Homo sapiens: one gene and its partner. The protein of the gene in region 2 interacts with the protein of the main gene of each other region in a pairwise test. Each region holds a gene or a part of one and is shown on either strand. Other genes may lie near its edges.

The links.
Region 1: the proteins of EXOSC7 (region 2) and EXOSC10 interact in binary tests that used the Homo sapiens proteins (3 or more experiments, as listed by UniProt).

The regions. Positions count from the first base shown.
Region 1 is NC_000001.11:11,068,870-11,075,869, reverse strand, and holds part of EXOSC10 (exosome complex component 10), read left to right. Parts: intron 1-1,543; coding exon 1,544-1,639; intron 1,640-1,861; coding exon 1,862-1,936; intron 1,937-3,698; coding exon 3,699-3,783; intron 3,784-4,881; coding exon of another isoform or gene 4,882-4,896; coding exon 4,897-4,970; intron 4,971-6,139; coding exon 6,140-6,311; intron 6,312-7,000. UniProt on the Homo sapiens protein: Catalytic component of the RNA exosome complex which has 3'->5' exoribonuclease activity and participates in a multitude of cellular RNA processing and degradation events.
Region 2 is NC_000003.12:44,999,673-45,007,243, forward strand, and holds part of EXOSC7 (exosome complex component RRP42), read left to right. Parts: intron 1-1,865; coding exon 1,866-1,936; intron 1,937-5,618; coding exon 5,619-5,742; intron 5,743-7,571. UniProt on the Homo sapiens protein: Non-catalytic component of the RNA exosome complex which has 3'->5' exoribonuclease activity and participates in a multitude of cellular RNA processing and degradation events.

The DNA.
Region 1 (7,000 bases), on a different chromosome or scaffold from region 2:
TTTTTTTTTTTTTTTTGTGACAGGATCTCATCCTGTCACCCAGGTGGGAGTGCAGTGGCACCATCCTGGCTCACTGCAACCTCTGCCTCCTGGGCTCAAGCAATCCCTCTGCCCCAGCCTTCTCTCGAGTAGCTGGGACTACAGGTGTATGCCACCATGCCCAGCCAATTTTTGTATGTTTTGTAGAGGTGGGGTTTCACCATGTCGCCCAGGCTTCACTTTGGTTTTTAACTTAATTACATAAATCTAGATTGGGCCTTGCTTTAGCAATTAATGAGAAAATACTAGGCGCTTTAGCTGACCTCAGAGCTAATTTGAGTCATGAAGATGATTTAGCAGCTAAGCGTGTTAGCATGAGCTCTGGGCTGCTTTGATACGGAAGTGCTGTTTGGTGTAAAGGAGGCTGTGGTCTCCCTGCACTCTTGTGTTGCAAGGGCGCATAATTACAGATGAAGCAAAAGGATAGCACATATTTATGAACCCAGTTGGAAGCAGCATTTTGTTGCATAATTTCAATGATTCCCTATAAAGATATGTAATACTAAATTTCAGGCCTGGCGTGGTGGCTCACACCTGTAATCCCAGCACTTTTGGAGGGCAAGGCGGGCATATCACCTGAGGTCAGGAGTTTGAGACCAGCCTGGCCAACATGGTGAAACCCTGTCTTTAATTAGCCGGGCATTGTGGCGCACGCTTGTAATCCCAGCTACTCGTGAGGCTGAGGCAGGAGAATCACTTGAATCCAGGAGGCGGAGGTTGCAGTGAGCAGAGATGGCACCACTGCACTCCAACCTGGGCAACAGAGCAAGACTCCACTCAAAAAAATAATACATACATACATAAAATAAATTTCAGGCATCAATTAAGACCTCATGTTCTAGAGCCAGACCATGGTGGGTTTAGATCCTTGGTCTGCTTGTATTCACTGCAAGCCTCTGAAAGACTGTCACAACCTCTGTAGGCCTCAGTTTCCTCCTCTGTAAGATGGTGAGAGTAATACCACCTCATAGGCTATGAGGACATGCTGAGAATTCACTGATCCAGCACATTGATATTGAAATGCTACTGTGTGCTGTTGCAGACACAACACCTTATACATAAGAGAGTGTATGAAAAATTAGCCTTAGCCATTGGTATTAATATCACTGTTACTGGCCGGGTGCGTGCGGTGGCTCACACCTGTAATCCCAGCACTTTGGGAAGCCAAGGCGGGTGGACCACTTGAGGTCAGGAGTTCAAGACCAGCCTGGCCAATATGGTGAAACCTGGTCTCTGCTAAAAATACAAAAATTAGCTGGGCATGGTGGCACGTGCCTGTAATCCCAGCTACTCAGGAGGCTGAGGCAGGAGAATCGCTTGAACACAGGAGGTGGAGGTTGCAGTGAGCAGAGATCACACCACTGTACTCCAGCCTGGGCAAAAGAGCGAGACTCTGTCTCCAGAAAAAAAAAAAAAATCACTGTTAACTGTTGCTCTCTTGCTTGCATCTTGATGTCACAGATGATCATGGTCATTAGTGATCGTTTTTTGTCTGTCCCTGCAGGAACCTAGTGCTGAAGACAGTAAAAAGGGTCCATTGACAGTTGCACAGAAAAAAGCCCAGAACATCATGGAGTCCTTTGAAAATCCATTTAGGATGGTGAGTAGTAGTTTTGTCAGGGCTGACAGGATATGCAGAGATGCCTACAGCTGTACATGCTTTTACCTGGGAAGGAAGCCTCTGAAGCCAGTGTGTCGGCTGCCCTGGTGTCCTGGCAAAGACGCTGACAAGGCACCAGCAACCCCCCATCTGAGCGCTTCTGCCCCGTGGCTCTAGATTCCGTTCCCGGCAGCGTTTCACACAGCCATTTCCTTCCTCCAGTTTCTGCCCTCACTGGGACACCGTGCTCCCGTCTCTCAGGCAGCGAAGTTCGATCCATCAACCAAAATCTATGAAGTAAGTGGACTTGTCACCTGTTCTAAAAGAGACTTTTTTTTTTTTTTTTTTTTTTTGAGATGGAGTCTCGCTTTGTCACCCAGGCTGGAGTGCAGAGGCACAATCTTGACTCACTGCAACCTCCACCTCCCAGGTTCAAGCAGTTCTGCCTCAGCCTCCCAAGTAGCTGGGATTACAGGCACCTGCTGTCATGCCCGGCTAATTTTTGTAGAGATGGGGTTTCACCATGTTGACCAGGCTGGTCTCGAACTCCTGACCTCAGGTGATCCACCCGCCTTGGCCTCCCAAAGTGCTGGGACTACAGACGTGAGCTACTGCGCCTGGCCCTAAAAGAGACTTTCTAAGAAAAGGGGATTTCTTAATTATTCATACCAGGTTTCTGTTTTAGACAAGCCTATCTCATCTGTGAATCCCGTGAAAATGAATGCAAAAGCCCTTTATTTTCTAGCATTGTTTCTAGGGAAAGGGTCCAGAACTTCAGTGAGATTCTTAAAAGCACTTGGGCTGGGCATGGTGGCTCACGCCTGTAATCCCAGCACTTTGAGAGGCCGAGGCGGGCGGATCATGAGGTCAGGAGATCGAAACCATCCTGGCTAACATGGTGAAACCCCGTCTCTACTAAAAATACAAAAAATTAGCCAGGCGTCGTGGCAGGCGCCTGTAGTCCCAGCTACTCGGGGGGCTGAGGCAGGAGAATCGCTTGAACCTGGGGGGCGGAGCTTGCAGTGAGCCGAGGTTGCGCCACTGCGCTCCAACCTGCGCGACAGAGCGAACTCTAGCCAAAAAAGAAAAAGAAAAGCACTTGGAAACTTTGTAAGAAACAAATCTTCATTTGCGGTTTTTAAATTGAGGTTTAATCTATATGTAGTAAAGTACACAAATATTAAATATACAGCTTGATGCATTTTTATAGATGTCTGTTACTTTAAGGCTCTTAAAGGTGACAGCTTTAATTTTAAAACACTCTATCTTACTTATCTGGCTTGTTTTTACCAGCATTATGAGTAAGAATGAGAGCACACCTCCCCTAGACCCTCTTGAGATGTTCCCCAGAGCCAGAACGTGAACTGTTGTTCGCAGCCTCCTTCCTCCCTTTAGGAAGCGTCTGCTCTGATGACATGGGCGACTGGCTTCCTCTGTGTGGCAGCAGAGCTCTTTTGTTAGGCAAAACCGAGAGGTCCCCCAGCCCCGTTCCTGTCCCTGAGTTAGCTTGCTATTTTTGGAAATGGGGAATCAGGTGGGGCTTCTGCCTTCTCTCCTCTTTTCCCCCCACGGGTTATGTCACACTGAACAACTGCACGTCCTGTGTGTTATGCCCAGTGTCACCTCCATGTGTTGTAACGCCATAGGTCCGTGGGGTGTCATAAAGAAACACAGCAGACTTGCGGAAGCCCAGCCTTGAGTCTGCTTCTGTCATTTACTGACCATGTCCCTTGGACAAGTTATTTACTCTCCCGGAGTCTGTTTGCTCATCTCTAAAGAGAGGGTGATGACAGTACCTTTTTCCCAGGGTTACAGAGGGATTGAATGAGATGATGGATGGCCCAGTGCCTGGAGGACAGTAGCACTTTGTCCTTAATAGGGATTTTAGCAATAAAGCCAGCATGAAATTTATTTTTCATGCCCTTAGATTTGAAAATTTATGACTTAGAATGTGTGTACTTCTTAGGTTAACCTGCCCTTCGTCACCTCATGAAAAGTAAGACAGACTTAGGTGGCTGACTTTGGAGGGTTTTTTTTGTTATATTTGCTTTCATTATAGATCAGCAACCGCTGGAAGCTGGCCCAGGTACAAGTACAAAAAGACTCTAAAGAAGCTGTCAAGAAGAAGGCAGCTGAGCAAACAGGTAACACTCACTTCCTTGCAACTCAGTCGGCTGTTAAAGAATGGCTGTTGCACACCCGCTGTTTCAGCCAAGTGCCAGATACGGCGATGAATGAAGCCCCTGTGGGGCTTCCCTTCTGCTGAGGGATGGTGGGCAATCAGTATCTATCCTGGCAGATGGCAGCAGGTGCTGTGCAGAGAGATTGGTGGGGAGTGCTGGAGGTGCTGTAGCTGTCTCGTTGGTGGTTGGAGAAGGCAGTCTAATGAATGCGACATTGACGAGACCTGCAGTGACCTAGAGAAGAGTTCTGGAGCCACAGCACAGCGAGCCCAGAGGCCCTGGGGCTAGTTCACTGGGCATGCTGAGCAGCAGCAAGTGGGCCTGCATGAGCAGAGCGGGTAGAGAAGAGCAGGAGATGGGGAAGGAGCCAGCAGAGGCCCACGGGATGACGCTGCCTTTTACTCTGAGTTCAGAAGCCAGGAGGGTGCTGAGCAGACGGGGGGAAGTGACTGACATGTGGCACTCTGGCTGCTGTGTCAACAGTAGACTATAGAGGACAGGATGGGAGTCCAGGAAGGGATAGGAGACATGGCAGTGGCTCAGGCGAGAGGGGATGGTGGCTTTGAGACCAGCGTGGGAGCAGAGGAGGTGGTGAGAAGCTGTCAGAGCCTTGATCTGTCCCATAGCAAAGCTGACAGCATTTGATGATGAGGTGGATGTGGCATGTGAGAAAAGGGAAGGGAACCTTGGATGAAGGTTTTGTCCTGAGCAGCTGGAAAGCTGGAGTTGCTGGCAGCCAAAGTAGCTGGTTTGAGCAGGTTTGTCCACGATGGTGATGGTGACGATCCTGTTAAACGCCCTCAGGTCCACAGGCCACTGAGCATTTAGGTTCACAGAAGAGGAGCAGGCAGGGCTGGGGAGGATCAGCTCACGTGTAGCTGAAGGTGGGCAGAGCACCTGAGCCTGAGCTCTGAGGCAGCCTGTCCTGCAGAGATGGGGGACCGGGGACCTGAGAGGGAGGAGGAATCAGCCGTGACAACCCCTGTGGCTAGGCCAAGTCGGAGGGGGATGGAGATGGAGGGGAGGGTGGTTGCTGGATTCACCAACTCCAGAGACAAGTTCTCTCCCTTGCAGCTGCCCGGGAACAGGCAAAGGAGGCGTGCAAAGCTGCAGCAGAACAGGCCATCTCCGTCCGACAGCAGGTCGTGGTATGTGCCAGCTTTTCTCCTTTTTCCTTTGAAAAACGATGCCCCTGCTTGTGGTCAGGATCTTCCTTGGATATCTTAGGGGGCTTGCCCTGTGCTTTATATTAAGTCCTGACTTCTTTCCGGTTCACCTTAGCTTGGCTATTAGTGTCTACCTCATTTCCGAAACCTCCACAAGATTGATATTGTAATTCCTCTTAACCTTCTTCCACTGTGTTTATGGTAAATATGCCAGACCACTCAACTGTAGTAGTAGAAAAGGTATTGAGGTTACAGTGCTGAAGCTTGTTGTGTGTCCTGCTGTGTCCTACAAAAATGTTGCATTCTAGAGAATGAAACCCCAGAGCACTCTGGAACTCTTTTTTTTTTTTTTTTTTTTTTGAAGTAGTGTCTACCTCTGTTGCACAGGCTGGAGTGCAGTGGCACAGTTGCAGCTCACTACAGCCTCAAACTCTTGGGCTCAAACGATCCTCCCTCCTCAACCACCCAAGTAGCTAGACCACAGGCACACACCACCATTCCCAGCTATTTTTTGTTATTGTTTTTGGTGGAGACGGGGTCTCACTATATTGCCCAGGCTATCACTCGAATTCTTAACCCCTGCCCCCTGCCTTTCCTTTTTTTTTTTTTTTTTTTTAATTTCCTTTTAAAAAAAAAATAGTGACATGGTCTTACTCTTACCCTGATGCCCAGGCTGGAGTACAGTGGTGCAATTATAGCTCATTGCAGCCTTGTACTCCTGGGTTCAAGTGATCCTCCCACCTCAGCCTCCCAAGTAGCTAGGACTACAAGCACGCACCACCATGCCCAGCTACATTTGTTTCTTTTTTTTTGTAGAGATAGGGGTCTTGCTATGTTGCCCAGGCTGGTCTCAGACTGCCTAAAGCAGTCCTCCCACCTAGGCCGCCCAAAGCACTGGAATTATAGGCATGAGCCACTGCACCTGGCCTGCTTGCCTTTCTTAAATGACCTCATGTCATTGTCCAGTGAGGAATTTGTTTCAGCTGACCCTGAGTGTTGGTCCCGAAGTTCCAGCCACAGCTCCTCTCCCCACCACTGACTGTTCTTCTTACCACTTAGGCAGCTGGGTCCCAGCTATTGCTGAGGCCGGTGGAGTTCCCTGTTCCCATGTGCCTCCCTGTTCCTCCCCCACATCTGTTCCTGATCTACAGCTAGAAAATGCTGCAAAGAAGAGAGAGCGAGCAACAAGCGACCCAAGGACCACAGAACAGAAACAAGAGAAGAAACGACTCAAAATTTCCAAGAAGCCAAAGGACCCAGAGCCACCAGAAAAAGAGTTTACGCCTTACGACTACAGCCAGTCAGACTTCAAGGCTTTTGCTGGTGAGGAAGTAATGGGGCCCCATACAGGGACATCTGTGCGCGTCAGAGGGGAGGAAGCCATAAAGAGACCACAATATAGGGGCCAAGTGAGTCCTGCACAAGGCATGGTGCTAGCCAGGAATTGTTGGAGTAGTCCAGAGAGGCCGTGGCAATGTGGACAGTCGCCTGCAGCCTCATTACCACCTCCTCCATGGGAGCTCAACTCATGGTGGCCTCCATGGTGGGTTAGCAAGATCACCTGTCACTTCCACTGTGACCAGGGCGCCATCCTTCCTCACTATAACTTGTGCCCATAAACCCTCTCTCTCTCTCTCACACACACACACACACAGAATTTTGTTTGTTGAAAAATCTCAAAGCCTATGACATGAACCCCTATGGCTGCTTGGGCTGTGAGAGTCCGTCTGCTTTGAAGGGGCTACAGATGGCATTCTCGACTCTAGCAGCCTTCGGAGCAACATGCTCCTTTGGAAAAGAGAAAGCAGAGGCCAGTCCACACAATGGCCCTTTATACAGGAGTGTCGCCTCAGAGCCCGAGTTCCTTATGGCATCACCCAGCACAGAGATCAGAATGGATTTCCTTATGTGCGGGGGCCACTGCTGTAGCCACCTGCCCCTAAGGTCCTGGGACTAGAGCTGAGAGAAATGGGCCTGGTTTTCAGACTGCCCACAGGGACCAGGATCGCTAT
Region 2 (7,571 bases):
AGTGAGAATCCATCTTTAAAAAAAAAAAAAGTTGTCATCTTCAGAAAAGTTTTTAATGAATTAGAAAAGCATTTTTGAAAATTGTATTATTGATGAGGCCGATCCATTTTTTGGCATTCACATAGTTTTCATCAGTGGATGGGTGATATACTGAATAGATTGAGTCCATGTTTGAAGCGAGGTGGTGGAAATCTGTGAAGCAATCCTTGAAGCAAGATAGTAGAAAAGAAACCTCCTAATTTCTTTTTACCAACTGGTCTGGTTAGTCCTCAGACAGAGCCCATGTTCAAACAGATATTTGCTGGGCACCCTGCCATGTTTTCATACTTACTTACTTCAAACCTATTACAGTCAGATGACCCACCTGTTTCCAGTATTGGTTTTTTTCCCCTCAGTTCGGTTATTTTATGAGAGTGAAAATTTAACTTCATGGAAATTTCACTTTGCTTTGCTCTTTATAGTTCTCTAATGGCATCAGTTTTTACTCCAAGAGGGAAACCTGTTAGAACTTTGCTGCACTAACAACACACAGCTGACCTTTGGTGGGGTGATTGGTCACAAGCCTGTCTTTTGATGGGTTCTTTCACAAATAATCACTAACCTTCTTCCTCATAGCACCCCTTCTGTTGGGCTCTGGGGATAAAAGGATGAACAAAACTACAGAGTCCCAGCCTTTAGGAGTTCACAGTTCAACTGCAGAGGAGATAGACTCTAAACAAAAACAGAACTACATGACTTTTCTTTCTATGTGTGACTTCTCACCTTTCTTATTTGGGGCAGCCCAGTCGGCTTTATTCCATAACCTCAGGCCAAGGCCTCTCTAAAATGAGGACAGAAGGATATGCCACCTTCCAGTTAAATGTGCTCTAATTTTCCCTGCTAGATGAGCATACGTAAGTGCACTCAACACTTTCGCTCATGGGCAGAAGCTTGTCTGAGAGACTTTAGTCTTCATTATAAGTAATGTAAAACATGTAGTATTTCATGTCTGAGCATCAGATATACATTGATCATTACATACGAGAAGTAATTACACTAGTAAATGTGAACCTAGTAGCAGCCGCAACATCAGTAGCCACCGTTTTCTCCTTGTTTGGAGGCCAGGCATATGTTAGCAAAGATTAGAGTAACACTTGGAGTACAATTGGGAGCTATCTGGGGCAAAATAAAGGTGATCAGTCCCACCTTCAGGGCAGCCCCAACTGCCTGAAGTGCCTGTGAGAGGAGCCCACCCACAAGCCATGGCCTCTGAGTGTTGGTACCACAGCCCTGCCAACTGTGACCTTGTGTGCATGGGCCACGTAAGCACAGCTATGACAAGGCAGTGCCTGTAATTAGGGTGAAGGACTGTGTCAGTGAGTTGCAGTCACTGCATGGCTAGCCAGGAGAGAAGCCACATGTTATCTTTATTTTATAAACACACAGTCAGCATTTCTTAGAAATCAGTGTCCTTGACCACAGAATAGATTTAGGGAAAGAAAAAAAAAAATCGGTGTCCTGGCCGGGCGTGGTGGCTCATGCCTATACCCCAGCACTTTGGGAGGCTGAGGTAGGCGGATCACTTTTGGTCAGGAGTTCAAGACCAGCCTGGCCAACATGGTGAAACCCTAAAATACAAAAATTAGCTGGGGGTGGTGGCGCACACGTGTAATCCCAGCTATTCGGGAGGCTGAGGTGGGAGAATTACTTGAACCTGGGAGGCAGAGGTTGCAGTTAGCCAAGATTGCACCACTGCACTCCAGCCTGAGTGACAGAGCGAGACTCTGTCTCAAAAAAAAAAAAGCAGTGTCCTTTAACTGGGGTAATACCTAAAGTAATAAGTGATGCTTGGTTTTTTTTCCTTTTTCAATTCCTGTCTCCCTTAGCTTCTGGAATGTGGTGGAAATTTGTTTGATGCCATTTCCATTGCTGTAAAGGCTGCTCTCTTCAATACAAGGTAAGTCTTCCTAGAAACAGCTCTGCGAACCTGTGGAGAACCAGAGCAGACACTTGTAATGGAACACTGAGGAAATTTCTATTGTAGCTCATATGTGAAGATAACAGGGGGTTTTAACATTGAAAATGGTGACATCTAACGTTAAACTCCAGAAAAGATAGATTTCGTGAATTAAAACTACATATATACGTATATTCTGTATTTATTTTTTGTATTGTTATTTTTATAAATAGACACCTACCATTTAGAAAAATATTAGAAAACTACAGAGAAGCCAAGAAGAGTAGACACCACCTACAGGCCAACTATCCAAATACTATTACTGGGTGAACTCTATGGGGGCAAGGATTTTGCCTGTTTTGTACTTGCCTATATTCCTAGCACCATGAACAGTACCTGACACATAGTAAGTGCTTGCATATTGCTTGATTGTACACATGTGTGTTCTAAAAGCAGGGTAACAGGCTTCCCTTTGGTTTAAGAAGAGGAAATGGCTATTCCACATGGTTCAGCTTTCCAAACAGGTTGTGTAGAAGGGACAAGTTGCTATGCTTTTTTGGAGTTGACATTTATTCTGACTGATTGACCTTTCCCCCTTTTATGCTCCAAGTACTTTGAGGAAAATTTGCAGCATTTATGAGTAAATACGTGGGATAGGGTGTTCATCCTATGAGAGAGCCTACATTAAGGTAACAGAGGATCCTATTAAAAAACGAGGATTAGAAACTTCTAGGGATATAACCTAAGGACATAATTGAATAAATGAGCAAAGATGTTTATTCTAGGATGTTCATCACATCCTAGAATAAACATTACACTGCTTTGTAATGGTAAGAAACTGGAAACAACCTGAGTTTCACAATGGAGGGGATTGAAGTCCACACAGCAGCCTATTTAAAGGCATGTTAATATGGAAAATAGTTCACTAAATGCAGTCCCCTCATCCTGGTTTTTGTTTGTTGGTTTGTTGTATTTTACTTTGGTAGTTCTTATATGTAATGTGTCTGGAAATATGTACCCCCAAGTAATCACTGTAATTATTTTTCAGTGCTCATATTTTGGCCAACATAACATTTACCTGTTTTTTAGAGCTTTTCTATGATGAGTTTAGACTCCCTGTGTAATTTAGAGCAGACAAAAATTGCAGGCTGGAATATTTGCTGAGAATGAAAGCTGTAGAGTCCCCCACCCCTAGCTGTGCCACTAGGCTCCTTGTTGAGACTATTTGAAATGTGAGCCTGGCACTCTTGGCCACCGTGGGAGCTTGCGTGCCAGATCCCACAGCAGTAGCTGGTGCTCGGGCCCTGTTGGGGAAGGAAAGGAAGCTGTCATCTGATTTATCTTGAGCCTCAGAAATGACTCCCCATCTGCCAGCTGGTTCCTATAGGCACCCAGGCAAAAAGAGAGATTGGGAACCAGACAAGGCTGTTTAGCTGTGGGGGAGTTGCTGGCCAAACTGTATACCAGAAAGGTTAACCCAGCTGCTCAGGTAGGGGAGGACACCTGTCATGGGCACAGCCATAGTCTCATCCTCAGACCAAGAACAGCCCTGCAGGCAGCAAGGAATGGGGACTCTAAGGCATCAAGTCCCCCTGGTATGTGGAGAGACTATTGGCATATTCAGGGTCCTTTAGAAGGGTAAAGGCCACCTGAGGGTATTCTTTAGCCCTTCTGCCCAGGCTTGTTGTAGCCAAAGGGTTGGGAAATTGGGAGATACTGTGCGTGCGTGCGTGCGTGCGTGCGTGTGTGTGTGTATGTGTGTGTGTAAATGGTTGACAACTTGTTCAAATAGGATATTACTTAGTAGAACTTCCTCTGATGGGAAGGCTCCAAATGGGGAAGACCCTTACAGAACTCCTTGGCCCTTGTCAACATTCTCTGGCTGAAGCTCCCCTGATCTGATCTAGATGTTGCCTTGTGTATGGATGGCCAGCAGGGCTCAATCATGGGGGGTTTTGTTAGAGGAACTGGGAAAAGTACTAATGCTGTTTCCATTACAGTAGCTGGATGGACCACCTCTTCCTTCCTGGCTCCTCCAACCCAGCCTGGAGTGAATTGACTTTATAGGTTAAATGTGTTTTTCAGTACCCAGCTGAAGAAACAGAATGTTGCCAGCACCCCAGAAGCATCCCACACCTTCTGTACCCCCATGCAATTACACTCACTGATGATAACCAGCATCTTAAAAGAATAGATTACTTTTGTACTTGATATAAATGGTATCATATACTATGTTCTGTTTTGTGTCTGCCTCATTCACTAAGCATTGTGTTTTGAGAGATCTGTGTTGCTGCCTTAGTCATAGCTTGCTTTTTGCTGTATGGTGTTCCATTGTGTGACTTTGTCCAGTCTGCTGTTTATCCAGTCTACTGTCCAGTCTGCTGTTGTTTATCAGTCTACTGTTGATGGCCATCTGGTTCATTTCCAGTTTGAGGCTATTACAAATAGGGATGGGCATCATGAACATTTTGTGCATGTCTTTGGTGCACATATTTCTCTATTTCTGTTAGGGAGGAGTGTTCTGGGTTATAGGGTATGGCTATCTTTAGTTACGGTAGATGCTGCCAGTTTCACAAAGTGTTTTACCAGTTAACACTTCCACCAGCAGTGTATGTAAGAGTTCCGGGTTGTTTCACATTTTTGTCAACTCTTGCTTTTTTTTTTTGAGATGGAGTCTCACTCTGTCTCCCAGGCTGGACTGCAGTGGCGTGATCTCAGTTCACTGCAACCTCCACTTCCCAGGTTCAAGCGATTCTCTTACCTCAGCCTCCCAAGTAGCTGGGATTACAGGTGTGCACCACCACACCCAGCTAATTTTTGTATTTTTAGTAGAGATGGGGTTTCACCATCTTGGCCAGGCTGGTCTCGAACTCCTGACCTCAGGTGATCCTCCCGCCTTGGCCTCTGAAAGTACTGGGATTACAGGCATGAGCCACCATGCCTGGCGTTTTTTTTTTTTTGTTTTTTTTTTTAATAGTTATTTTGGTTGTGCCTTGGTATCACAGTGTAGTTTTAATTTGCATTTTTAATAGATATTTAAATTGAGCACCTTTTCTTGGTTTATTGGCTACTCAGACAGCCTCTTTTATGAAGACATCCAAATATATTCTACGTTTGAGTCTTTTGTCCATTTTTCTGTTGGGCTGTCTTTTTTTTGTTTAATAGGAATTCTTTATGTAATCTGTCAGGTAGTATTTTATCTCCCCAGATTATATTTTTAGTTTTTAAATGATGTCTTCTGATATACAGAAGTTCATGATGTTATAATTGAATATGTAACTTTTTTCTCTTTCTGTATCCTGTTCAAGAAATAGTTGTCTACTCCAAGGTCATGCAGATGTTTTTTTCTAAATGCTTTATTGTCTTGTCTTTTATTTTTTATATCTATGGTCTATTTGGTATGGCTTCGTGTGTGTGGTGTGAGGTAGGGATTGAGATTCTTTTTTTTCCATTGGGATATCTGATTGACCCAGCATCATTTTCTAAAAGATGCCTTTCCTCATTGCACTGCGGCGCCTCCTGTGTGCTTTTGACAGGGATGACAGGGATGAGGATGATAAAGAATAGGCATAGCGTGTCTTTCTCTTGTGAGACACAGGGATTCCAACTCCTATTCTCAATCTTAAAAAGAAGTTATTTTTCCTCCTCCAAGTGGGAATTTTACTAGTGCTTCTGCTTCCAGGATACCAAGGGTTCGAGTTTTGGAGGATGAAGAGGGGTCGAAGGACATTGAATTGTCAGATGACCCTTATGACTGCATACGACTAAGTGTGGAGAATGTCCCCTGCATTGTCACTCTGTGCAAGGTATAACTTGTATTTTATGGTTTTTGTCTTCCCTGTGGGTGTGGGTCTCCTCTAATCCCAACCTGCTGAGGTTACTTAATAAGTTAAGAAGTTGTAATACCACACACCATATAGAAGTAGCTTTTACCCAAATCCAATAATTTGGTTATACTAGAAACCACTACCACGAGTAGCTCTTTCTTTTCTTTTTAATTGGAAGATATGATGTGGTCCTGGGAGCCATGAGTGTGTTTGTAGTAATAGTAGCCAGAGTTTGTTAAGCTCCTTCCACATACCATGTGCTTCACTAAAGCACCATGTCTTTTAATTACCTCAACTCTATGGGGTCTAGGGTGGTTGAGTAGTGGCAGGGTGGCGAACACTGTCCCCCCTATGAAATGGGAGGTTGGAGCAGGTCTTGGGTATCATGAGTGGTTTTCACATAGAGGGCTGTGGAGCTGAACATCAGGCTGATGTGATATATAACTAATGCTGCCCCAGGCTGTGCAAAGAGGCCTGTATTGGCTATTGACTGGGATTGTAGCTAATTCCACTCAGGATTCATTATCTCAAAATAAAGCTAAACAGGTCAGGTTTAATTCCACTGAAATCACTTCATGAACAGGATGTGGTGAAGTGTTCAGACAACAGGATGGCAGGATGTTGGGTCTTGGCTTTTTTTTTTTTTTTTTTTTTTTTTTTTTGAGACAGTCTTGCTGCAACGCCCAGGCTGGAGTGCAATGGCGCGATCTCAGCTCACTGCAACCTCCGCCTCCCAGGTTCAAGCAATTCTTCTGCCTCAGCCTCCCAAATAGCTGGGATTACAGGCACGTGCCATCATGCCTGGCTAATTTTTGTATTTTTAGTAGAGACGGTGTTTCACCATGTTGGCCAGGCTGGTCTCAAACTCCTGACCTCGGGTGATCTGCCCACCTCAGCCTCCCAAAGTGCCGGGATTACAGGCATAAGCCACCGCACCTAGCCGGCTTGTTCTTTCTTGTTGTTTATTTGTTTTTTTTTTTTTTTTTTTTTTTGAGACAGAGTCTCGCTCTGTCGCCCAGGCCGGACTGCGGACTGCAGTGGTGCAATCTCGGCTCACTGTAAGCTCCGCTTCCTGGGTTCACGCCATTCTCCTGCCTCAGCCTCCCGAGTAGCTGGGACTACAGGCGCCCGCCACCGCGCCTGGCTAATTTTTTGTATTTTTAGTAGAGACGGGGTTTCACCTTGTTAGCCAGGATGGTCTCGATCTCCTGACCTCATGATCTGCCCGCCTCGGCCTCCCAAAGTGCTGGGATTACAGGCGTGAGCCACCGCGCCCGGCCTTGTTTTGAGACAGTGTTGCTCTGTTGCCCAGGCTGGAGTGCAGTAGCACAATCTAGGCTCACTGCAACCTCTGCTGCAACCCCCCCACCCGCCCCGGCTCAACCTCAAGCAACCCTTCCACCTCAGCCTCCCAAGTAGCTGGTACCACAGGCTCACACCACCATATCTGGCTATTTTTTTGTATTTTTGGTGGAGACAGGGTCTTGCCATGTTGCCTGGGCTGGTCTCAAACTCCTGAGCTCAAGCATTCCATTTTCCTCAGCTTCCCAAAGTGCTGGGAGGCATGAGCCGCTGCGCCCAGCCTTTGGCTTGTTCTTGAGTGTGTCCCTTAGCATGGACCCTCTTGATTCCCCCTTGCCATCAGTGAAACGTCCATGTGGCCTTGTGTGTGAATTTCTCCCTTGTGCCCCTCTGTTGGAAAGCCTTGGTGGCCTTTGTCTTGGTTGGTCTCTGAATTCTAGTTTTAAACCACCTTGCCCTGTTTTTCCATATCGTGTTTTTATTGTACCACCCACACAGTGGCCTGT